Linked DNA regions of Homo sapiens. The protein of the gene in region 2 purifies or fractionates together with the protein of the main gene of each other region. This does not show direct contact. Each region holds a gene or a part of one and is shown on either strand. Other genes may lie near its edges. The genes, in order: PTPRD, ACVRL1, TALDO1, INHBA, CASP14, TSC22D1 and TGFB1.

The links.
Region 1: the proteins of ACVRL1 (region 2) and PTPRD purify together in Homo sapiens (affinity purification with mass spectrometry, with the first as the bait; one large-scale study listed by BioGRID). This does not show direct contact.
Region 3: the proteins of ACVRL1 (region 2) and TALDO1 purify together in Homo sapiens (affinity purification with mass spectrometry, with the first as the bait; one large-scale study listed by BioGRID). This does not show direct contact.
Region 4: the proteins of ACVRL1 (region 2) and INHBA purify together in Homo sapiens (affinity purification with western blotting, with the first as the bait; one study listed by BioGRID). This does not show direct contact.
Region 5: the proteins of ACVRL1 (region 2) and CASP14 purify together in Homo sapiens (affinity purification with mass spectrometry, with the first as the bait; one large-scale study listed by BioGRID). This does not show direct contact.
Region 6: the proteins of ACVRL1 (region 2) and TSC22D1 purify together in Homo sapiens (affinity purification with western blotting, with the first as the bait; one study listed by BioGRID). This does not show direct contact.
Region 7: the proteins of ACVRL1 (region 2) and TGFB1 purify together in Homo sapiens (affinity purification with western blotting, with the first as the bait; 2 studies listed by BioGRID). This does not show direct contact.

The regions. Positions count from the first base shown.
Region 1 is NC_000009.12:8,317,503-8,321,002, forward strand, and holds part of PTPRD (receptor-type tyrosine-protein phosphatase delta isoform 1 precursor), read right to left. Parts: intron 2,465-3,500; coding exon 2,329-2,464; intron 441-2,328; coding exon 372-440; 3' UTR 1-371.
Region 2 is NC_000012.12:51,917,504-51,920,682, reverse strand, and holds part of ACVRL1 (activin receptor type-1-like isoform 1 precursor), read right to left. Parts: intron 3,141-3,179; coding exon of another isoform or gene 2,985-3,140; intron 1,699-2,984; coding exon 1,568-1,698; coding exon of another isoform or gene 1,460-1,567; exon of another isoform or gene 696-1,459; intron 1-695. UniProt on the Homo sapiens protein: Type I receptor for TGF-beta family ligands BMP9/GDF2 and BMP10 and important regulator of normal blood vessel development. On ligand binding, forms a receptor complex consisting of two type II and two type I transmembrane serine/threonine kinases.
Region 3 is NC_000011.10:753,964-757,463, forward strand, and holds part of TALDO1 (transaldolase), read left to right. Parts: intron 1-1,915; coding exon 1,916-2,039; intron 2,040-3,500. UniProt on the Homo sapiens protein: Catalyzes the rate-limiting step of the non-oxidative phase in the pentose phosphate pathway. Catalyzes the reversible conversion of sedheptulose-7-phosphate and D-glyceraldehyde 3-phosphate into erythrose-4-phosphate and beta-D-fructose 6-phosphate.
Region 4 is NC_000007.14:41,689,591-41,693,090, forward strand, and holds part of INHBA (inhibin beta A chain preproprotein), read right to left. Parts: intron 953-3,500; coding exon 60-952; 3' UTR 1-59. UniProt on the Homo sapiens protein: Inhibins/activins are involved in regulating a number of diverse functions such as hypothalamic and pituitary hormone secretion, gonadal hormone secretion, germ cell development and maturation, erythroid differentiation, insulin secretion, nerve cell survival, embryonic axial development or bone growth, depending on their subunit composition.
Region 5 is NC_000019.10:15,048,309-15,052,279, reverse strand, and holds the start of CASP14 (caspase-14 precursor), read right to left. Parts: upstream 2,801-3,971; 5' UTR 2,635-2,800; intron 75-2,634; 5' UTR 29-74; coding exon 2-28; intron 1-1. UniProt on the Homo sapiens protein: Non-apoptotic caspase involved in epidermal differentiation. Is the predominant caspase in epidermal stratum corneum. Seems to play a role in keratinocyte differentiation and is required for cornification.
Region 6 is NC_000013.11:44,566,331-44,569,830, forward strand, and holds part of TSC22D1 (TSC22 domain family protein 1), read right to left. Parts: intron 1-3,500. UniProt on the Homo sapiens protein: Transcriptional repressor. Acts on the C-type natriuretic peptide (CNP) promoter. Acts to promote CASP3-mediated apoptosis.
Region 7 is NC_000019.10:41,333,423-41,336,922, forward strand, and holds part of TGFB1 (transforming growth factor beta-1 proprotein preproprotein), read right to left. Parts: intron 1-3,500. UniProt on the Homo sapiens protein: Transforming growth factor beta-1 proprotein: Precursor of the Latency-associated peptide (LAP) and Transforming growth factor beta-1 (TGF-beta-1) chains, which constitute the regulatory and active subunit of TGF-beta-1, respectively.

The DNA.
Region 1 (3,500 bases), on a different chromosome or scaffold from region 2:
TCTTGTGCTGAACTGCAGCATTCTGGCAATTTCTCCTTGCACCTTTCAAGCAATCCTGAATAAGATGGTGGTTCTTTGCTGTGATTTCTTCTTCCCTTGATTTTGAATCCTTGAGGTATCTGTAAATAAAATCCTTCAGATGCCTCATCAGTCAGGATTCTCTTCATTATTTTTCAGGTTAGATTATTAAACTGTGAATTCTTGGTCCACCTGGAATAATTTGTTTTTAATTTGTTTTGTGTGTAATAGTCCCACTAAGTAGTTGTTAGCTAGAAGTTAAGAAGGACTTCTCAAGTGCCCTGTATGGCTCAGAAGAGACTCCATGGATATTGAAGGGCCTGTAGTAAAAATCCAGAATGGGTCAGGGGTTTCTACGTTGCATAGTGGTCAAAGCTGCCCAGGTACTCTAGTGCGGCACGATAGGAAAACTGATATTGATCCTGCAGGAGACAATGAATGGGGAGAAGCAAAAGAAGGGACCATGAGCATATTTTAATAGAAAAATAAAAATCAATATTGCATAACAAAATAACATCTATATAGGGGCAAAATCACTACTTTCGTCAACTGGTCTAATCCAATGACCAATTGTTTATAGTGAACAAAGAAAAAGCCACATGGGGTGTTGATTAACTTTGCCAATCAATTTGACTAAAACGATCTCCCAATTCCAAGCAGTGGCAGGTCGAGTGAACATTACCTTCCCAGACAAGTGTTTTCCAAGTAGTATCAAACCATTACCACCAATTGAACACATAAACTTCTTACATGCCTTATAAGCAGATAATGATGAAAATCATCCTTTACAATTATCTGCTTATTCAAGATAACTAATTCTCAGTTTAAATATTTAAGAGAGGCTGATACAGACACAAACTGTCCTGAGAAAAATCTGAATTTACTTATCTTCTGAACTACTGCCAACAGAATTTGAATTTTTAAAAAATTATGTTTGGACAGTAGAGCTTGCAGTGAGAATCACTCACAGTCATTTCAGCTACCCTTTGGCTGTCTCTCTCACTTACATATGATGTTCATATACAGCCAGAAGGTAGCTGGTGCGGCACACCAGGCACACAAATCCATTTACACAGGGCACTGGACTTCCAAGCTTTCCATCCCTGAAAATGGCTTCACAGGACTGGCTGCCCACATCAAAAAATACCTGTAAATTCAGCCCAATTCTGTGTGATTGCTAGTTGTCTGTTTTAGAGAGGCACACACTAAAAAAAAGCAGTATGAAGCATGGCCTTTTTCAGACAACGAAGAACACTATCATATTGGAATAAATTGAAGCATTGTTGGAGAGATGGAAAAATCACAATTTACAGCTCTCTATAGGGATGAGGAAAAGGATTTTCCCCATAAAAGAAACCTATTTTCAGTGGCCAATCGGGCTGAAAGTAGACAGATAGTTTCTATTTTGCTTAAATGTGCATTTTTCTGTAATAAAAATGGTTGGTAATGCAAAATAAATGGTGTTTACTTTCCTATCTTGTCACAGTAAGTTGCTTGGCTGAGTGTTAAGGCTTTTTAAATGTCCAATTTCCCTCTGTAACCCCTAAGACCCATTAAGTTTGTCAAGCTGGCATAATGTTTTGACTATTGCAAGCCAAACACTTGCACTACTTTGAAATCCGTCTGAAAGATACTGTGGATGATGAATTGAGGAACACATATAAGTTGTATAATTTGGTGGCCTTTTGCAGAACATAAACTCTATCAGTAATATTATCTTTAGAAATGAATGCTCAATAGACCAGACTGGCTATATCATAAACTCTTATTATTACGAGAAATATCCAAATTTCCATATTAATTATTGGAATAGGAAATGAGGGGCTAATATTAATATCTCTAGGCTTATCCAGAATCAAAATGTTTTGAATGGCCATTGTTAAGACATGAAATATAGAAGAGCTGATACCTCTGTAGGCATACAGAGGGAGAATGGAGAAGTTAAATGGGCTGAGATTATATTATGTACTAAATATTATGCTTTCTATATATTTATATATTTATATTATAGGACTATGAATATAACGAATTTTATGAAATTGCCATTTTATTGGTCAAAAATGGTCCAGTAGTAAAATTTAACATAGCTCAATCTAACATATAATCTCACATAATTTCTATAGCAACACTAAGACACTAATAATCTCATCCCATTTAAAAAGGGGGAAAATGAGGTTCAAAATTATTAAACAGTTTGATGCTTTCCCCACAGTATTTTGTGTCTGGTGTTGAGAGAGTATGGAGTCCGGGAGGTCCAGGCTAGCAAAACGTAGGCTCTTGAGATGCGAAAAATGCAATGGATTTTCTCACCTCTGTCTGTACCATAGCTGGTCGTTGTGTTCTTAACATTTTGACAGTCTGGAAGATATCTACAACTCCTTCATATCTCATTCTTTCCAAAACAATGCTTAGCGTTATGAAGACTCCAGTTCTTCCAACGCCCGCGCTGCCACAATAACAAAGGCGATGTTACTGGGTGAGATGTTCACAGTCTTGGCCACATTTGCTTGGGTGTGGACATACTTCTACCAGCTTCCACACTCCGTATCTCTTTATAGCCATATTCAGGAAAACATGGTATCACATTCATCAAATGATTACTCTTGGGATACTGAGTTGTAACAGCATGTGATAATGAGGATGAAGTAATTAGGAGTAAGTCTAATAAAAGGTCTTTTCAATGGGGATTTATACCATTTTAGAAAGACCAAGGAAACATAACAAATGAAAAGAAAGGGTAAATAACATATAGGTTTATAATATTCATGGAGATTCTGAAATTTACAACCTGCCTACTTAATATTTTTAAAGTATGAAATAATTCAGAATAAGGTGAAGTGAATTTGGCATCTTCAACTTTTCTATCACACTGTTCACATTTTGCAGTTACTTAAAATACATATGCGATGCCCATAACCTAAATGTATTTGCCTATAACTAGTCAAATGTTTACACTGGTTTTATTATGAGAAAAGAGATGGTATAACAGGGTATATACGTGATTTTCACTTAGTCTTCAGGAGGGTTTATGACTATCCTGTAAGTGTACGTACACATGAAGTAAATACTATGTTGTTTTCTTATTTCTTGAGACTTAGAACTTTCAACAGATTCTCACAGGGGTCTCTAATCTTAAAAAAAAATGGTTAAGAGCCATTGATCTCTGAACTTAGCTACCATTTTTACATGATCAGCAACTAAAACCACATTAGAAAGGTTTTGAGTTTCTCTCTGTTGTCTTCATTGTTTTAAGATAACTCCAGAATCTTCACGGTAGCAAGAAAGAAAATTAATTCATAGCTCTTGTGCACTTAAGGAGGAAAGCAATGGGAAGTTCAGATAATGAGGGAAACAGTGAATAATCTGAAAAATCCCTGCATTTTTGGATCCTAATTAAACAGCATGTGTAACACTTGGGCACGGGCTGTAGAAAATAGATGGATTCATTTACTGGAGGGTGTAGCTGACAGGCATATATAAAT
Region 2 (3,179 bases):
GATGCAGAGGGAGGTGGGTCAGAGAAGATGGGAAGAAGATGAGGAGGATGGCCGGTAATGGGGAGACATAAGCAGGAGAGAAAGGATGAGAGGAGGGAGATGAGAGCATTGGAAAGGAGAGCGAGAGGAAAGACAAGTGGTGAGAGAGAGAACAGAGGATGACAAAAAAATAAAAAATGGAAGAGGAAGAGAGTAGAGTGAGAAAGGGATGGAGAAAGACAGGGCGGACAGAAAGAGAGAACTCAGATCTTCAGGAGCACTCAAGCCCCCTTGGGCAAGCAGTGTCTGTGAAACACCTTACCCCCATCCCCACCTTTGCCAAGATCCATAGGAAGGGGCCGATTCTTCAAGCCTGGGGGCTCCCACATCCCCATCCACAGCCTAAGACCCCAGTGCAGAGGGCAGTGTCTTCCAGCCCCTCCATCAGCCATGGCTGGGCCCAGGGGACTGTGGAAGTGGGAACTGCCCTAAAAATGCAAGTGTCCAGGGAGCAACCCATCCCAAAAAGCTCATCAACCCATCCCAGGAAGCTCATCAACCCATCCCAGGGCCTGAAATGAGCTGGCCCCACTTCTGGCTCCTGAAAGTGAGTGTATGTGTGTGTGTACAGGAATGCATACATGTGGCTTTTTGCGGATATGTTGTACAGAAATGTATGTCTATGTACACATAGATGTATACATGTATAGAATATATTCATTCTTTCAGTAAATATTTATTAGCACCTATTGTGAGCCAGATACTATGATAGGTAATAGGGACATAAGGGTGAGCAAAAGACACGTTCTTTGTCCTCACGGGGCCAACAGTCTGGCATATATGCGCATGTGTATATTTCTGTGAGTGTATGTTCAGAAGGATATTCACGCTTGTATGTGTTGATATACGTGTGTGTGTCTTTGTACAAGTGAAGTGTTTTGAGAAAAAACAAGGACAAACAACAACAAAACAGCAACAAACAAAGACAAATAGCAACAAAAATACCACAGTGGTCAGGTGTGGAGGCTCACACCTATAATCCCAACACTTTGGGAGGCTGAGGCAGGAGGATCACTTGAGCCCAAGAGTTTGAGATAAGCCTGAGCAACATAAAAGACCTTGTCTCTACAAAAAATTTTAAAAATTAGCCAGGTGTGGTGGTGTGCACTACACCTAGCTACTGGGGAGGCTGAGGCAGTAGGATCAGTTGAGCCGAGGAGTTTGAGGTTACAGTGAGCTATGACTGTGCCACTGCACCCCAGCCTGGGTGACAAGAGCAAACAAAACCCTGACTCTCAAACACACACACACACACACACACACACACACACACACACACAGAGCCACAGATAGCCTCTGACTTTTCACAGGGAAGGTGAAGGTTCTTAAAATCCCAGAATGACCAGATGGCCCTGGGGGCAGGGAGCATGGGCCAGGGTTGAAAGAGGGAGTACCTAGAGAGGTGCCCTAACCAGGACACTCAGTATCTATGAGATGAAGCAGAGGCCTCAGACACAAGTTCCTGGGCCCAGAAATCCCAGCCATGAGCCACCACCCCACGCCATCCTAGTCCCAGCAGAGGCCTCACCGGGTCTGCAGCCAGCCGGTTAGGGATGGTGGGGGTCTGCTGATCCACACACACCACCTTCTTCATGTCCTCAAAGCTGGGGTCATTGGGCACCACATCATAGAAGGGTGGTCTATAGTCCTCCACGATGCCTGGAAATGGAGAATGGACAGGACAATCACTTGGGACTCTAAGGAGGCCCAATACCACCCAGAGGAGAGCCTTTTCTACCCTCTATCCAAGGGCCAGAAACCAGTGGCCTGGACACGCTACCCCTGAGAGGGACAGTATAATGCAATAAATGTGTTTCTAACTAATGTTAATGACTGCCATTTGTTTTGCACATGGCATGTGCCAGATATTCTGCTGTAAACACTTTACATGCTTTATCCTGTTTGTCCTCACAACAGCCCTGTGGGGTGGGTACTAGTATTACCTCCATTTTACAGATGAAGAAACTGATGCTCAGAGAAGGGGGGCCCAAGGTTCCACAGCTAGTAATGGCAGAGGCAAGACTCAAACCCATCTCGGATTCCTAGGCCAGCCTTGTTCCAGTCTTCCCTCAGCTGCCTTCCACCCAGTGCCCGGGACTGCTCCCAGGCCCCAACTATCACACATGCCTGATAATAATAACACCAAATGTTTACTGAGCACTGTATGCCAGGTGCTGTCCTAAGAGCTCTGCATGAAATCCTCACAGCAGCCCTATGAGGTAGGTAATACTATGAGCTCCACTTTATAAGCCAAGAAATGAAGGCCAGAGAGTTTAAGAAACTTGTCTAAGATCAACAGATAGTAAGTGACAGGGCTAGGATTTAAGCCCACAGTCTAACACCAAAGCATGTGCTCTTGACCTCTGAGCTGCACTTATCTTTTTACCCAGGTCCACATAACATCACCCAGTGTCAGGGATGGCACAGGCCTCTGCTGACTCCTGCAGCCAGCACTGACCCCCTCCTCTTGGTATCCCAAGTTCACAGTTTTTAGTAGGAGCTTTCTGAAAACAATGCCGGTGGAGCCGCAGACAGCCCCGTGCCCCATCCTGTTTCCCAGCCTGAGGCTGGGGGCCATGGCCACACAGGCCGCAACCTCGATAGAGCCTTCGCCAGCTGTTCTCCCCATGGCCAGCTTCCAGGCCGGCCCCTGTGCCGCTCACGCCCTAATCAGTGCTGCACAGAGGCCTGAATGTGTCTAATGGGCCTTTAATCAGTGCCGGGGCTGACACCAGATTACAGTGTTTATAATGCGCCGCGAGTCCGTGTGGGGCTGATGGAGCTTCCCCCTCCACCCCAGGCAGCCTCCTCCCAGCCTTTCCTTTCTGCCCTGCAGCCTGGTCCAAGGAGCCTTGGCTTCTTCCAGGTTCCTCTTTCCCCCGATCCCGGTCTCCTTAGAGCCCACTCTGGCAATTCATGCCCGGAGTCTTGAGGAATCTAAGCACCTCGTGAGTCTCCCCAAGGGACCGGTGACACCACAGCCTCTGTTTTCAGTTGATGACCACCGAGGACAAATGAAGTCTGGCATGGGGCTGGCTCCTGGTAGATGCTCAGGAAATGAGGACATCCTTGTCCCCAAGAAGCAGGGCTCCAGCCATATCCTGAGGATTGTCCCCAACCTGTCACGACTCCTGGAAGTC
Region 3 (3,500 bases), on a different chromosome or scaffold from region 2:
TTGGTTACTCTGAAGAAAAAAACTTTTTTATTTTTTTTTGCAACAGAGTCTTGCTCCATTGCCCAGGCTGTAGTGCAGTGGCACAATCTCGGCTCACTGCAACCTCCACCTCCCGGGTCCAAGTGATTTTCCTGCCACAGCCTCCCGAGTAGCTGGGATTATAGGCATGCACCACCACGCCTGGCTAATTTTTATATTTTTAGTAGGGACAGGGTTTCGCCGTGTTAGCCAGGCTGGTCTCGAACTCCTGACCTCAAGTGATCCACCCCCGTTGGCCTCCCAAAGTGCTGGGATTACAGGTGTGAGCCACTGTGCCCAGCCACTGAGTAGCATTTTATGACTGGGTTGATTAAAGCAGAGAATGTCAGCTTTATAAAAGGGACCACCAGTACAATTTGAACAAAAACTTGGGACATTGTCAAAGTTGTCCACTCCGACTAAAAGGATTCTTAGGTCAGGTTTTGTCAAGTTACCTGCAGAAGCTACTGAATGCGATATTTATTTATTTGTTTGCTTATTTATTTATGAAACAGAGTCTCACTCTGTCACCCAGGCTGGAGTGCAGTGGTGCAATCTCAGCTCATTGCAACCTCCACCTCCTGGGTTCAAGCGATTCTCTTGCCTCAGCCTCCTGAGTAGCTGGGATTACGGGCATGTGTCACCACACCCAGCTCATTTTTGTATTTTTAGTAGAGACTGGGTTTCACCATTTTGGCCAGGCTGGTTTCAAACTCCTGACCTCAGGCGATCCACCAGCCTCAGCCTCCCAAAATGCTGGGATTACAGGCATGAGCCACTGCACCCGGCCTGAATTTATTTTTTTAAGAGATAGGGTCTTGCTCTCTGGCCCAGGTGGGAGTGTAGTGGCATGATCATGGCTCACTGCAGTCTCAACCTCCTGGGCTCAAGCGATCCTCCTGCCTCAGCCTCTTGAGTAGCTGACGCTACAGGCATGCACTACCACACCTGGCTAATTTAGTCTTTCTATGAAACCTAAAAAGAATGATTGGTGAGTGATAGCAGTGGATAAAATTAGTCTTAAAGTTGCAGCAGTGCGGTTCAGCAACTATTAGATAAACTGGTTTCAGGTTAGAGGCCGCTTCAGCAACTAGGCTTGCAGGTAATAATTTTTGGAGCAATGCTGTGTGTCCTGAGTGCTTTTCCCCTTGGCCTTTTTTTTTTTTTTTTTTTTTTTTTTTGAGATGGAGTCTCACTCTGTCACCCATGCTGGAGTGCAGTGGCGCGATCTCGGCTCACTGCAAGCTCCGCCTACTGGATTCAAGCCATTCTCCTGCCTCAGCCTCCCGAGTAGCTGGGACTACAGGTGCCGACCACCACACCCAGCTAGTTTTTTGTATTTTTAGTAGAGACGGGGTTTCACCGTGTTAGCCAGGATGGTCTTGATCTCCTGACCTCGTGATCCACCCGCTTCAGCCTCCCAAAGTGCTGGGATTACAGGCGTGGGCCGCCGCGCCCAGCTCCCCTTGGCTTCTTGACTCTGTTGCAGCTGGGTATGGTGATAATGACCCAGTCCATAAGATCAGCGTTCACATGTGGCTCATGACTAGACCGCGCGCCTCCTTGTGGTGGTACGGCAGTGGGATGCACATTTTCCTTTGACCAGCGTTCTCCCAGCTGTCGCACCGCTCACTCCCATGCTGTTACAGGTCACCTCTTGCAGGGGCATATTTGATCGCTGGGCACTTAGTGTTTGTTGTTCCATCATTATGCAAACAGCCGCCTCTTGATGAACCTTCAGTGACCCAGAAGAAGGTGTGAGAAGTGTGGCTGGACCCCGCTTTCGGAAATGCTCTGGACTCCCCTAACGTCCTGGGGAATTACAGGGTTCCTTCACATGTTTCCAGTTGGAAGCAAGTACTCCACTTACTTTGGCTTTTGAAAACTATTTCCCTAGCCATCGACGAGTACAAGCCCCAGGATGCTACCACCAACCCGTCCCTGATCCTGGCCGCAGCACAGATGCCCGCTTACCAGGAGCTGGTGGAGGAGGCGATTGCCTATGGCCGGAAGCTGGGCGGGTGAGTGCCTGGACTCGGGAGGGTCCCAGCTAGGCCCTCGTGCTAGTCTAGTTGGCCTTGCTTCCCTCCCTAACTGAATTTTAGTTCTCAAACACCATGAACTCAAGGGGGGAAAAAAACCCTATCTTTTTGCCTATTTTTGTTTATTGAAGTGTAATCTGCATGAAGTAACCTGCACCTGTGGTAAATGAGCAGTTCAGAGAGTTTTGCCAATGTGTGTACCCTGTAAATACCACCCCAGTCAAGATGCAGAGCACTTGCAGACCCCCACAGGCCCCTCCTCCCCTCCTGTAGTCAGTCTCCCCAGCTCTGGTAACACTTACCTTCTGGCTGTCATTTTATTTTTTACTTTTCAGACGGAGTCTCGCTGTGTCACCCAGGCTGGAGTATAGTGGAGCAATCTTGGCTCACTACAACTTCCGCCTCCCTGGTGCAAGCAATTCTCCTGCCTCAGCTTCCCAATTAGCTGGGCTTACAGGTGTGTGCCACCACTCCTGGCTCATTTTTGTATTTTTTTTTTTTTTTTTTTTGAGACAGAGTTTTGCTTTTGTTGTCCAGGCTGGAGTGCACTGGCACAATCTCGGCTCACCGCAACCTCTGCCTCCCAGATTCAAGCGATTCTCCTGCCTCAGCCTGCCGAGCAGCTGGGATTACAGGCATGCGCCATCACACCTGGCTATAATTTTTGTATTTTTGGTGGAGACAGGGTTTCACCATGTTGGCCAGGCCGGTCTCGAACTTCTTACCTCAAGTGATCCACCTGCCTTGGCCTCCCACAGTGCTCGGATTACAGACGTGAGCCACCGTGCCTGGCTTTTTAATTTTTTAATAGCTTTTATAACTCCCAGAATGTTCTCTGGTACCTGTTTGCAGTAGCTCCCCACTCCCTTACCCAACCAAGCAACTGTAGAGCCCTCTTCATGCCTGTGGCTTTGCATATTTTAGATGTCATTTTAGATTCTCTTCAGGGTAATAATTCAAAGCTTGAAGATGGTGCCGAGCAGGCAACGTGGGCACCACACAGGAGCAGGTCCCTCTCTGGTACTGGCTTTGCTTAGGTCCAGGTGGCTGGTGAGTGGCTCCCCTGACCATGTTGTGACAGCCACTCTGGACACTGAGTCTGACCCTCTCCTCTCTCTTCTTAGCTCCCTTTTCCTCATCTCGTGGTGTTGCACCCCTGTGGCATCAGTGAGGCCTTGGTGCTCCTGTTATTGGGTGACATTGGTGCCTTTGCTTGGCTGGGTGATCAACAGATGAGCCCTGCACCCATGTCCAGATGGCCCCAAATTTTTTTTTTTTTTTTTTTTTGAGATAGAGTTTGGCTCTGTCACCTAGGCTGGAGTGCAGTGTCACAATCTCAGCTCACTGCAGCCTCTACATCCTAGGCTCAAGCCAGCCTCCCACCTCAGCCTCCCAAGTAGCTGGGACTACAGGTGCACGCCACCACACCTGGCTAATATT
Region 4 (3,500 bases), on a different chromosome or scaffold from region 2:
ATTTTGCCACTGTCTTCTCTGGACAACTCTTGCTCCCTTTCCCCCTGGGCTGGGCAACTCTATGAGCACCCACACTCCTCCACGATCATGTTCTGAATGTCCTTTTTGATGATGTTTTGACCATCATCATAGTACAACATGGACATGGGTCTCAGCTTGGTGGGCACACAGCACGATTTGAGGTTGGCAAAGGGGCTATGGCCCCGCATGCGGTAGTGGTTGATGACTGTTGAGTGGAAGGACAGTGAGGACCCGGACGTGCCTGCTATATGGCTCGGGCACTCACCCTCGCAGTAGTTGGCATGATAGCCAGAGGGAGCAATGATCCAGTCATTCCAGCCGATGTCCTTGAAACTGACAAAGAACTGTTTCTTACAGCAGATGTTGACCTTGCCATCACACTCCAAGCCCCGCCGACGCCGGCGATGAGGGTGGTCTTCAGACTGCCGGGCCTGCAGCATGAGGAAAGGTCTGTGCGACTGCTCCTTTTCCTCATCTGCTCCTGCCCCACCTTCACCTCCGCCCTTCTTTTTCCCTTCCCCCTCCTCTTCTTTCTTCTTCTTCTTGCCCAGGAGAACCAAGCTGGCGCCACTCTCCTGGCACTGCTCACAGGCAATCCGAACGTCCAGGGAGCTCTTGCCCTGGTCCAGCAACCGCTGGATGCTGCTGGAGACAGGGAAGACATGCCAGGTGCTCTTCCGAGCGTCTACTACTTTTTCAGAGAGCAACAGTTCACTCCTCTCCCCCTTTAAGCCCACTTCCTCGGCCTCTTCCCCTGTGTCCAAGCTGCCCTGCGGGTGCTTCTGCTGCTGGAAGAGGCGGATGGTGACTTTGGTCCTGGTCCTGTTGGCCTTGGGGACTTTTAGGAAGAGCCAGACTTCTGCACGCTCCACCACTGACAGGTCACTGCCTTCCTTGGAAATCTCGAAGTGCAGCGTCTTCCTGGCTGTTCCTGAAGATGAAAGACAGCATAAGAGAAAACAGGCACACCTGTTAATTCCAACATTTACATGCACTCGTAAATTTCAGGCAAGCAGGAGTCTTCTGTGACAGACCCTCTTGAATAGGGGTCAACAAATGACAGCCCATGGGCTGAAACTGTTTCTGTACTGCCTGCAAACTAAGAATGGCTTTTATACTTTTAAGTGGTTAAAGAAAAGTGATATTTTGTGACATGTGAAAATTACCTGAAATTTAAACATTAGTGCCTGTAAATAAAGTTTTGTTGGAGCATGGTTATGCTCATTTCTGTACATGCTGCCTATGGCTGTTTTTGCACTATAATAACCAAGGACTGCGTAGCTGCAACAGACTGCCTGGCTCACAAAGCCTAAATTATTTACTCTCTGGCCCTTTATAGAAAAAAGGTTTTGGACCCTTGCTTTAGAATGAAGAGGGCCTGCGAGTCTGTGTCTGTTGACTAATTGCTCAACCTCAGTTTCATCTTCTATAAAAATGGGAATGACATAAGGACATTTGACCTGTTATCTCACAGGTTTAGGAAGGTCAAATGAGATAACATAAACAAAAAGACACTGTAAGCTCTAGAAAGCTAAGGAAATACTATTCTCAGACAAAAATGCAGCCCCTGGCCCCACCTCGCTGTGTAAGTCTGTGCAGTCGAGACACACTTGAGCCAGCCTCTTCTTCCCTTGTCACAGCCTGATTCCTCCGCCATCACCTCTTTGCTGGGTCACTGCAGCAGCATTTTCTTTACTTTGCCTCTGCAACACTAAGGAAGGCCTCCTCTCCAGTCATTTCTCCATGAAGCAGCTAAAGGCATCTTTCCCACAGGTGGATCTGATCACATCACTTCTTCTTGAAAGTCCTTTACTGAATTCCTATTGCTCAGTATCCAACAGAAAGTGGCTGGGACTTTGGGCTCTGTACATGCTGTTCCTCCCTTGAATGTCAGCTCTTGCCCAGTCCTGTTCTCTGGGGTCTAAGGCCTTGAGAATTCCACCCCCTTTCTCAACTGCAGGCAGTGACACCTGCTGTTCCTTCTGCCTTAAGTGCTCCTGCCCCAACTCCAACATACCACCCTTAGTGCTGCCTTTAATAATGTTTCAATTTTCAGATTGTTTGGATGACAGTTCCTCTAGGAGGCTTACCTCACATCACCTCCACCACCACCCTCCTGCCAGCCTGGTTTAGAATGCCCGGGGTCTAAGGTCACTATCATAGTCTAGTGTTTAGCAGAAAGTAGCCAATGACTTGATTACTTATTAACAAATAGAGGCGTCCTTAGCATTGAGTTCTATTAAATTAAGAGAGCCACCTAGTACCTCTGAATCCCCCATTTTTGCCTCTGACCCATTACAGGGCAGATTAATGGGCACCAGAAACATATGTCAAATAGCAATCGCTGCTAATGGACAGGAAATCCCCACATTGTCAGGGCAGTTGAATTTAGCAACCACTCAGTTCCAGCCTAACTCTAAAATTAGAAAGTCACCTATTTCCTTCTCTTTTCCTAAGCAACTGTATGTTTAATGACACAGCAACAATTACTATGAAAGCAGGTATCCAAACTAAAATTTTTTGATTAATCAAATATTTTCCCTCACTTCCATTTTTCCCACTTGGTGGCATATAGAAACATATCCTCTTTTCCATGACCGTGGACCTCCTTACAACTGTCTGCTGTACATGTATCCCATGCACAAATCTGGGAACAATCTTCAAGAAGTTCATCTTAGAACTTGCAACTCCCTGGGAGGATCTCCCTGCCTGGATTTCTATAGTTAACGGAAATCCAGCCATACTTATCACTCGAGGCCCTGAGATGTTTACGGTACTATAAATTTTAGGCACAGTTTCAAGTTCTCTGCAGCAGAAGGCAGGCTTTTCTGTGCATTGCGTACTGTGGATTCTGTTCTTAATTTAACACACTCTGCACACTGTGATTATGATAGTGGTAAATTCACTGAGGCAAGGGCCAAGCAGGGCTGCAGATGGATAGGAAAGGTTCTCTGGCATCTTTCTATAAACTTACGAGGATGCTGGCCATGATGATGGTGGCGGTGGTAAGGGGAGTTCCTCTGACTCCGACCTCATGTCTTTGGCAGGAGTTGAAATGAATAATAAAGCTGGGTTTATGATTAGATAGAATACCAGAGCAGAGAGAGCAGTTAGAGGGAGAAGCTGTCTTATTTTAGGAAGCATGATGACTTATTTTTTCAAAATCTGAATTCGATATTCCCCTTTGCTAAGAATTGGTGTGGGTTTTGTTGTTGTTGTTTGTTTCTTAACAAAATAAAAGAGAAGAAGATTCCCATAAGCAGAGCTTAATCATTTAAATCTAAAAAGGCAATCAGCAGTTGATTTTAGGGTGGCAGGGTCCTGCCAAGGCCTTAGGAGAAGGCCGAGGGAAACCTCCCAAGCCTTGGATAACTAGCCTGGAGGGTGTGCAGGTTTCCTCCAGCTTGGGCACATCTGCCTTGCCCCATAGAGAATGTTAACAAGATACCTGCTGTTTTCCCTTCTGCCTCTATGCAGGA
Region 5 (3,971 bases), on a different chromosome or scaffold from region 2:
CCTCTTCCAAAGACCGCGGATTGCTCATTTCTCCTTTGGTTGTGAGTCCCGGCTCTCAGCACCCTTGTCTGATCCTTGGAGTCAAGAGAAGATAGGTTAAAGTTCTCTAAAGGGAGGCCGAGGGGCTCAGGGGACAAACTGGCTTATGTATCTGGATTTTTGAGACCAAATAGCACTCAAGTGGTGGGGATTTGGTCTGTGGACAGATCTGGGCAATAGATGATAATCCATGAAGTAGTAATATATCACCCCTAGAATGACAATTTCACGATGTCTTCCATTTCTGGATGTCTTCTTCAGAACTGCTGAGCCTACCCCACAATGTCCCCCACTCCGCCCCCAAAAACTTCCTGTGTCTCCCGTGGGTCATTCACCAGCTTCTGGTGGACTGAACTTCCCCTGAAAGCCCTGGAATGAGGAGCAGGGCAAGTGACCCATGTGTTTGCCTCTTCTACCTAGGAGATGACGGGCTGGGGAAGCCATCTCAAAGAGATGCCTTGGAGGAGTGTTTAAAAGGAGAATGTCATCGAAGTGGGGAATGCAACTTTGATATTATCTCACTGGGTCTCCAATACGAAGGGGTCAATCCACCTCCCTTGCTCTTCCTTGAGTCTGAATGTCTGTCCACATTCTCCATTCTCATCTCTGAGTCCTGTTCTCTTCTCTGGCTGCACAGACAGACTTTTGTCATACTCTTGGCATTTCCCCATCTCTTTGCCTTTTCCTACACTTTCTCCTCAGTAGGGAATGCTTTTTGCTTTTTTTTTTTTTTTTTTTGAGACAGAATCTCACTCTGTCACCCAGGCTGTCTGGGGTGCAGTGGCATGATCTCGGCTCACTGCAACCTCTGCCTCCTGGGTTCAAGTGATGATCCTGCCTCAGCCTCCCGAGTAGCTGGGACTACAGGTATGCGCCACCATGCCTGGCTAATTTTATTGTATTTTTAGTAGAGACGGGATTTCACTGTGTTAGCCAGGATGGTCTTGATCTCCTGACCTCATGATCTGCCCACCTCAGCCTCCCAAAGTGCTGGGATTATAGATGTGAGCCACTGCACCCCACCGGGAATGCTTTTTTTTTTTCTATCTAGATCCTTCTCTGACAATTTTGGTGGCATAATATCTGCTATGCCTTCCCCCATCAACCATCCATTCATCTATGTTTTTATCCATCTATCTATCCAGTCACCCATCAATTCATTCATCTATCCATCTACCATCTATCCATTAATTCATCATCTATCCATCCATTCACCCACTCACCCTTCCATCTATTCATCTGTCCATCTACTTATCTATTAATCAGTCATCCCATCCACCCATCCTTCCACCCGCACATCTATCTAGTCATCCATCAATCCAATTTAACATCCATCCTTTTATTCATCAACCCATCCACCAATTTATCTTTCCACTTACCTATCTATCCACTCATCCATCCATCCATCCACCCACTCACACATCTATTCATCCGTCTGTCTACCCATCTATTAATCAGTCATCCCATATACCCATTCATTCTTCCATCAACCCATTTATCTACCCATCCATCTATCTATCCATCCACTTATTCATCCAACCACTCATTCATTCATCCATCCATCCATCCATTCATCCATTATCTCTCTCTGTCTTCCATCCCTCCATCTATTCTATCTTCCAACTATCCCTCCATCTAGCCCTCCTTCTATCCATTCCTTCATCCATCATCTCTATCTTCCATCTATCCATCCACCTATTTACTTATCCATCTACCCACCCACCCATCCATCCATCCATCCATCAATCCATCCACCCACCCACCCACCTACCCAGCAAATATTTTCTGGGTATCTATTATGTGTTATGCACTTAGAATCCATTAAGTAAGACAGACATGCTCCCTGACTTTCTGTCCTTCTGTAGCTCTAGTCTGTGACAGAAATGAATATTAAATCTCTCTCTCTCTCTCTCTCTCTCACACACACACACTCACACACACACACAGCAAGTGCTGTGACGAAAGAGGAGCCAAAGATTGTGAGGGAGGAAGTGGAAGGAGCATAGCCCTGGAGCCAGAACCGAATCCTGCCTCAGTCCCTTCCCAGCTGTGTGACCTTCGGCATCTCACTCTCCTCTCTGAGACTCGATTTTCCCATCCGCAAAGGACCTGGGGAGAGCTCTAGGTGCTTAACAGCAATGGTGACCCAGGTAGGTTTTAGGATCCCTCTTGACCTCCTGGAACTTTCCTCTTCCTTCTCTGGACTCTCACAGCTCTGCTTGCTCCTACTTGAATTACAGCAGTGTTTTTGATTCTTACTCTCATGGCTGAACTGGCAGCTCAGTTTTCAGGACTGAAAGCCTGACTTCATTATCTCTGTCTCCATCATGGCCAACAGTGTGGCAGGGAGCACAGAGGTGGTGTTGGAGAGAATTTGCTGAGTAAACAAATAAGAAAAAAATGAACAGATGAAAAGAAAGAGGGGATGGATGGAAATTTCTTCCATTCTGCCAAAACTGGCCAGAGCATTAATTCATGAAGGGAGAGGGAGCGTATGTGTGTATGTGCGTGTGTGTGTGTGTGTGTGTGTGTGTGTGTGTGTGAGAGAGAGAGAGAGAGAGAGAGAGAGAGGCTAATATCCACCAAATCACTTACCAACTCTAGAGGCAGCTGTTCCTCAAGGCCAAGTTCAATCTCACTACTCTCCTAGTTGCCAATACTGAGCTGGGCACCGAGGAGGAGTCAGGCCCACGTACTGATCTTGGAGAAGGGGCTGACAGTGTGGAATCTCCCGGGGTTTCTCCTGAGAAGCCTGGTCTATGAATCGGGTGGCACAATCACCTGGCCCTTTATTGTCGGTGAGTTTTCTGTCACTCAAGAAACCTCATGACACACCCTTGGCACACAGCTGTGGTGTGGAAATGGAGCCAACGCCAATGGGATGAGTGATCGCAAGGCTGAGGGGACTCCCTCTGGCAAAGGTGGCCTAGGCAGAGAGTCTAAATGAGTCAGATGTCTGTGCCAGCCCAGCCACAACCTCTCCCAACCCCCATCCCATAGCCAGCCCATCTGGTTATTACCATCATCATTATGCCTAGTTTATTCATCTCACCTTCCACTGTGTAGATAACACCGACTTCACTTAGTTATTATCTCATCGAGTCTTCAAGAGTCTAGACAGATCAGTATTTTTGCTCCCATTTTGCAGATGGAGAAACTGAGGCTCATAGAGGTGAAATGACTGCCCAAGGTCAGCAATTGGCACAGTTGGCATTCAACCCTATAAGGGGTGAGGTGTGGTGGGTCACGTCTGTAGTCCCAGCGCTTTGGGAGGCCAAGGCAGGAGGATCGCTTGAGGTGAGGAGTTTGAGACCAGCCGGGGCATAGTGAGACCCTGTCACTAAAATAATAATAATAATAAAAATGATGGCATATACCTATAGTCCTAGCTACTCAGGAGGCTGAGGTAGGAGGCTGGCTTGAGCCTAGGAGTTTGAGGCTGCAGCGAGCTAAGATTGTGCCTCTGCACTCCAGCCTGGGTGACAGAGCAAGACTCTGTCTTAAATATAAAAACAAACAAACAACCCCTAAAATGTTCCAGCCCAGTTGCCTTAACTGATGCATCATGATGATTCCTCTCTTCCTCCTCCTCTTATTATTTTTCAGCCATTTTGTTTCATTTTATTTCTTATGTTAATAGTGAAACCAAAGGCGAACCTGATTAAGCCCTCCAGACTTAATCTGCCTTGCGTTTAATTGCTTACTTACTTTTAATTGCTTACTTATAGTTGATCTTAAAAGCGCCACTAGCAAGTCACGTAGCCAAATAATGCATAACTAAACTCCCACTGGCTTCCTTACAGATAACATTTTTGTCTGTGGGACACTATAGTAATGGGTGCTTAAAGTTGTTTTTCAGGAACTAGGTAGGAGGCAGCTCTTGTTTAGTTTAAGCCAGTGGAGATCACTGACCCTTCAACTGCACCTATGTG
Region 6 (3,500 bases), on a different chromosome or scaffold from region 2:
GCAAGTTTCAGTTTATTCACCAATAAAATAGAAAAAAACTTAATTCACAAGATTACTGAGTGGTTAAATATGGTAGACATTAACTGAATCTAATACTAACATTTTTCATCACTTCTATGAACTGAAATTCTGAATTACATACTATTCTTATTTCTAACAAATATAAACTAAGTAATTCCACTCTTAAAATTTATGTATTCATTAGAGAACTAACTTGGAGCTATGACTTAATTAAAATTAGCATCATTCATTACATTTAATAGTACAGTATTCTACCATTGAAATAGATGTGTAATGATACTAAACACACACATCTATTTTTTCACTCCTTCCCTAAAACCCCACTAAAATGACAGAAAAGCAATTTGTTAAGATACAAAGACATAAGCCCACAAAAACTGAGGCAGATGAAAAGACAATAGCAAAAAAATTTGAAAGCTGGAAAGCAGACAGTTGAGTGACAAATGACTTAGCAAACACTAGAAAATCAAAGCTTTAGCAAACAATGGAGAATGCCAAAAACAAACCCAATTTAAACTGCAAAATCCCCAAAAGACTCAGGAATTGGCAGTACCACATCTATATAAGTGGGATGTGGGGGGAGAAGGTGCTAAAATTAAAAAGATTGTTTAGAAGTCAGTTTAAGAAGCAACCAGTCCTACAGATTCCCAACTGTCCCTCCCTAATCCCAAGAAAAAAAAAGGAATATTGTCTGAAGAAGGTAAAACATAGGATCACAGGACTAAGGAAATCAGGCACAGCAAAATGCAGAACATACTGAAAACAGGGTTGAGTGAAGAAACGTATCTGGGGATCCCCCAAAACCTTTCATTCCACATCCCCCTCACTGCCCACCCCACAGAATGCTTGTAGAAAGGCCTTCAATTCCAAGCAAGAAATCAGAAGAGCCTTCTTATAGGGATCTAACCAGCTAGGAGGATATACAAGAAGAAACCGACACTAGAAGTCCTCCAACCAAACACCACAGCCAGGTTACCATACAGGAAAGCTAACAATTGACAAGCCACGCTCAGAATTTCTAATTAGCATTTTAATTCCTTACTCTTACACATGACTACCAACTATCTGAGGAAAGGCTATAAGATGAAAGATAAAGACCAAAGCAAATAAAAAGTAAGAAAATAAAACCTAGAGGAAACACCACATAGAAAGAAAAAAAAAACTTTTTAAAAAAGCTAACATTTTATATATTCAGATAGCTAAGAAAAAATACTATCATTATTAAAATAGAATAGTATACTATTAAAAAGGAGCAAAAAAAAAGTTCTTGGAATTTAAATATGTGATAAGGGAAATGGAAACTCAATAGAGCAAAAAGAAAAACAGATGAAAAGTAGTTGAGAAAACACAAGAAAATTAGAAGACCAGTCAAGAAGGTCCGTTATCCAAATAAGAGGAGTTTAAGAGAGAAAAAATAGAAAGACATAATCAACAACCTGACTCAAGAAAAAGTCCCAGAATGAAAAGATGTTTCCAAACTGAAAGGGTTCACCAAGTACTCAGCACAGTGAATGAAAACAGACCCACACAAAAATCCATCATGGCAAAACTTCAGAACACTGGAAACATAAAATCTTATAAAGGTTTTAGAGGTTTTAAAAATGAGAGGAAGAAAAGGAAGAAGGAAAAGGAAGGGAAGGAAAAACAAAATACACAGGTCACATACAATATATAAGATATCAGAATGGCTTCAGATTTCTCAAAAGCAATATGGATGTTAGAAGGCAATGGCACAAAATATAAGAGAACATAACTTCCCCACCTGGTATTCTTTACCTAAGAAAGTGTCAGAGTAAACTAAAGCCATTTTAAAACAAGCAAACTAAGAATAAAGACACTAGTCTCTGGAAAATAAAGATCCAACACAAGACAAAGTGAAAGGAATCCCAGAATAATAGTTGTGTACCAAGCCAAGAAGGCAACCAGTCAAGAATGGAGGTCAGTGGGATATAACACTTCCTGAGAAAGATAAAATTGTTAACAATATCTGATATTGGAACATCCTAAGAGGCATCTGATGAAAAGTGGATTTAGTGATAAATATAGAGAAAACTAGGCAAAGAGGTAAAAAAAGACAATGAACTCCAGCCAGATTACTCTGCGGTAAAGTTAACAGTCAACAAGCCACACGGAAAAAGAATTTTTAAAAATAATTATATATATATAGTAGAGACAGGATCTTGCTATATTGCCCAAATTAATCTCAAACTCCTGGCCTCAAGCAATCCTCTCACCTTGGCCTCCCAAAGTGCTGGAATTATAGGCGTGAGCCACCATGGCCAGCCCCACACTGCAAATCTCTAATCAGCTCTTTAATCCTTTAACACTTATTTGCAAGCAGACAATCAAGACTTACCAGACATCTAAGGAAAGGTTCTACAGGAAAGGTAGAGCCCAAAACATACAAAAATGGGAAGAGGGTGGGGAAAGGAGGGGCAACTTGGAGAAAACAGACAGCGCTGACAGATGAAAACCTGGGAGTGGAGGAAAACCCATTTCTATAATAGACAGGTGGGGATGGAGCAGGGAAGCAGCCACAAAACACTGTACAGGATAGGAAAAGTAATATTTGACAAGAATACTGAATAATCAATATTGATAACTACTGGGAGGAAGGGTACTGGGAAAAAAGGAGACCAGGTAGGTATATGGTAACAACAAAATTAAATCTTCATTTTCTATCCAGGAAGTTAATACAGACAAAAAGAAATGAAAGGTGTATTTTATTTAACAAATACCTACATAGGGCATGTGAGTTAGACAAAGTTCTAGGGAATTTCCAAATTCATTTAATTCTTATATCAACCCAATGAGGTAACTACTATTGTCATCATTTTTTTAATGAGAAGATTGAACCATAAAGAGGATAAATAGCCCGATGTTACATAAAACTAGTAAATGACAAGAAAGATCAAATCTAGGCAATCTAACTCCACAGTCCATGCTCCTAACGAGCAGGCTATATTACATATCTAGTGGTAAGACAAGCAAGTTATTTAGAGACTGGGAGGTAAATACCACAATAATCATCTAAAAGAGGTGAAAGTGATTGTTTCTAGGAAAGGAAAACTGGAAAGTAAGGGTGCAGGAAGCTCTTCCATTTATTTCTTGGAAAACCATTTAAACTATCTTTAAACTGTGCATGTACATCTTGAAAAAAAAACTTTAAAAATTATAATTTCGTATTTTAGTTAACAAAGTATTTTAACTGATACTACTGCTATCCTGAGAAGCAGGCAAAATGAGTATTACTCCTATTTTATAGGTAACACACATGCGTCTTAAATATTTGAGGACCTACTATAAAACAGGCAATGTACTTTGCAGACATACATCAATTCACCTAAAAATGTTGATGAGAGATACAAAAAAGCAAGTCTTTTTATTCAGTTCTTTTCCATTTGTTGCATAAATTATATGATCCTGCATCTCTCACAATTGTGCTTAAGATGAGGGACAATATAAACTTTAAATCATGA
Region 7 (3,500 bases), on a different chromosome or scaffold from region 2:
CAGGCTGGTCTCGAACTCCTGACCTTGTGATCCGCCCACCTCAGCCTCCCAAAGTGCTGGTATTACAGACCTGAGCCACTGCATCTGGCCTATTTATTCTTTTTAATTTGTTATTCTTTTTAGAGACACGGTCTCACTATGTTGCTGAGGCTGGTGTCGAACTTGGGCTCAAACGATCCGCACGCCTCGGCCTCCCAAAGCATTGGGATTACTGGCATGAGCCACCACACCTGGCCCCTTCACTTCATTTAAACCTTAGCTCAAATGTCCTTCACTCAGGGACCCTTAACTCCTAAAGCAGTGTCTGGAATGCAGTAGGTACTAGTAAATATCAGTTACATGACTGAACATCACCTCCTCAGAGATACCTTTCTGAGCCATCCTTTCCAAAATATCCAAGTGACTGTTAGTTCCATTTAGTGCAATACGGTATTGCAGTTATGCAAGAAAATATAAAAATGTCTGCATTTGAAATGGGGCAAAATCTTAATTACCGATGACGCTGGATGAGAGTTTACGGGCATTCATTATCTTCATTGCTTTTGTATACATTTGAAATTTTCCATAATAAAGGAATTTAAATCAGAATAGGAAAAATAACAGTTCCCAATATCTATTACTCTCTGCCTGCCTTCTTCTGGTTTATTTTACTTCTTAGAACTGTCAAAGAGGCCGGGTGCAGTGGCTCACGCCTGTAATCCCAGCACTTTGGGAGGCCAAGGCGGGTGGATCACCTGAGATCAGGAGATTGAGACCAGCCTGACCAACATGGCGAAACCCCGTCTCTACTAAAAATACAAAAATTAGCTGGGTGTGGCGGTGCTTGTCTGTAATCCCAGCTACTCAGGAGGCTGAGGCACAAGAATCTGCTTGAACCCAAGAAGCAGAGGTTGCAGTGAGCCAAGATCGTGCCACTGCACTCCACCCAGGGCAACAGGGTGAGACTCTGTCTTGAAAAGAAAAGAAAAAAGAAAGAAAAGAAAAGAAAAAGTTGACAATGCCTTTTTTTTTTTTTTTTTTTTTTGAGACAGAGTCTTGCTCCGTCACCCAGGCTGGAGTGCAGTGGTGCAATCTTGGCTCACTGCAACCTCTGCTCATAGATTGGTGGGGCCAGCCAGGCACGGTGGCTCACGCCTGTCATCCCGGCACTTTGGGAGGCTAGGGCAGGCAGACTTGAGGACCCTGTCTTTACTAAAAATTCAAAAATTAGCTGGACCTGGTGGCGGGCACCTGTAATCCCAGCTACTGGGGAGTCTGAGGCAGGAGAATCGCTTGAACCCAACTTCAAGTGGCACCGGATAACCTAGAGGCAAGATAAAGCCTTTCCAAGAGCCACAGAAGCCTGAGAAGGAAGTCAAGAAACTGAGATCCCTGTGAACTCAGCCCGTACCACCCAATTTGGTTGGACCTCAGTTTCCTCATCTGTTCAGAGGTAGGAGCTACTAGATAAAATAAGGTGTTAAGCTGAGGGCCAAGGGGCCATCATGGGCAGGCTTAGGGAGGGCCATGAGTGCCTGAGATCATATGCACATGTGTGTATGTATGCATGTATTTCTGGGAAAAAGAGTCCTGGCTTTCACTTTCTCACAGGAAGTTCTGAACTCACAAAAGGGGAAGAACTAGTGTCCGGAATCTTTTTTTTTTTTTGAGATGGAGTTTCCCTCCTGTTGCCCAGGCTGGAGTGCGATGGTGTGATCTCAGCTCACTGCAACCTCCGTCTCCCGGGTTCAAGCAATTCTCCTGCCTCAGCCTCTCAAGTACCTGGGATTACAGGCATGTGCCACCATGCCTGGCTAATTTTTTGTATTTTTAGTAGAGGCTGGGTTTCACCATGTTGGTCAGGCTGGTCTCAAACTCCTGACCTCAGGTGACCCACCCACCTCGGCCTCCCAAAGTGCTGGGATTACAGGCATGAGCCACCGCACCCGGCTCAGAATCATCTTTAATATGCAGTTCAACCCTAGCTGGGGTTCTGAGATCCTAGGATTTGAACAATCTGTGATACTGTTATCCAAGTCAGCAGCTCTCCACGTGAGCTCCCAGGACCAGCGGCAGCATCACCTGGGAACTATGGGAAATGCAGATTCTCAGGTGGCACCCCAGGCCACTGAAATCAGAAATTGTGTGCAGGACTGGGAACAACAGTCCGTGTTGAACAAGCCGTCTAGGTGATCCTCTGACTCATTTTTTCAGCACACATTCGGGGCCTACCCTGCACCGGGCCTTGGGATACCCACAGCCCTTGCCCTTGCCAAGCCTCTTCCGTCCAGTCTCTCAAGACCTAGGCCAGGTGCAGTGACTCACGCCTGTAATCTCAGCACTTTGGGAAGCCAAGACCGGTGAATCGCTTGAGCCCAAGGAGTTTAAGACCAGCCTGGGGAGCATAGTGAGACCCTGTCGCTACAAAACTTTTTATAAATAAAAGACCCAACAGAGACTGTTTGTTGAGTCAAAGATCTACTTAGGGCCCCAGGGGAGCCCAGAGGCCTCACATCCATCTTGGATGTTGGAGAAAGGGGTTAGGAAGGAGGTAGTGTTCGAGCTGCCTTAAGAACAAATTTTCCTATGAAAGTTTTTTTTTTTTTTTTTTGAGATGGAGTCTTGCTCTGTTGCCCCAGGCTGGAGTGCAGTGGTGCAATCTTGGCTCACTGCAACCTCCATGTCCCAAGTTCAAGCAATTCTCCTGGCTCAGCCTCCCAAGTAGCTGGGATTACAGGCACACACCACCATACCCAGCTAATTTTTCTGTATTTTTAGTAGAGACAGGGTTTCACCATGTTGGACAGGCTGGTCTCGAACTCCTGACCTCATGTGATCCACCCGCCTCAGCCTTCCAAAGTGCTGGGATTACAGGTGTGAGCCACCGCGTCCAGCTGGAAAGTTTCAGATGTACACAAAAGCAGCTTCAACAATGACCAACTCATGGCCAATTTCCATTGCATCTCTACCCCTATCCACTATCTCTTTTTTTTTTTTTTTTGAGACAGGATCTCACTCTGTCACCCAGGCTGGAGTGCAGTGGTGCAATCACAGCTCACTGTGGCCTCCAGCTCCTGGGGCTCAAGCCAACCTCCCACCTCAGCCTCCTGAGTAGCTGGGACAAAAGGTACACACCACCAGGCCCAGCTACTTTTCATATTTTTTTTTTTGGGAGATGGGGTTTCACCATATTGCCCAGGCTGGTCTCCAACTCTTAGGCTCAAGCAATCCTCCTGCCTTGGCCTCCCAAAGTGGTGGGATTATAGCTGTGAGCCACTGCAGCCAGCCGACAATGGTTTATCTCAAAGCACATGCAATCCACCGTGTTGCTTCATCCATAAATATTTCAAATGTATCTCTAATTAAGACTACTTTAAAACACAGTCACAATACCATGTAAGAAAATTAACAATTCCTTGATATCTAGAGGAATATCTAGACAGAGTTCACATTTACCCAACTGTCTCATAAATATCTTTTTTTTTTAAGCCTGTGTAAATAAGGATTCAAGTAAGGTCTAC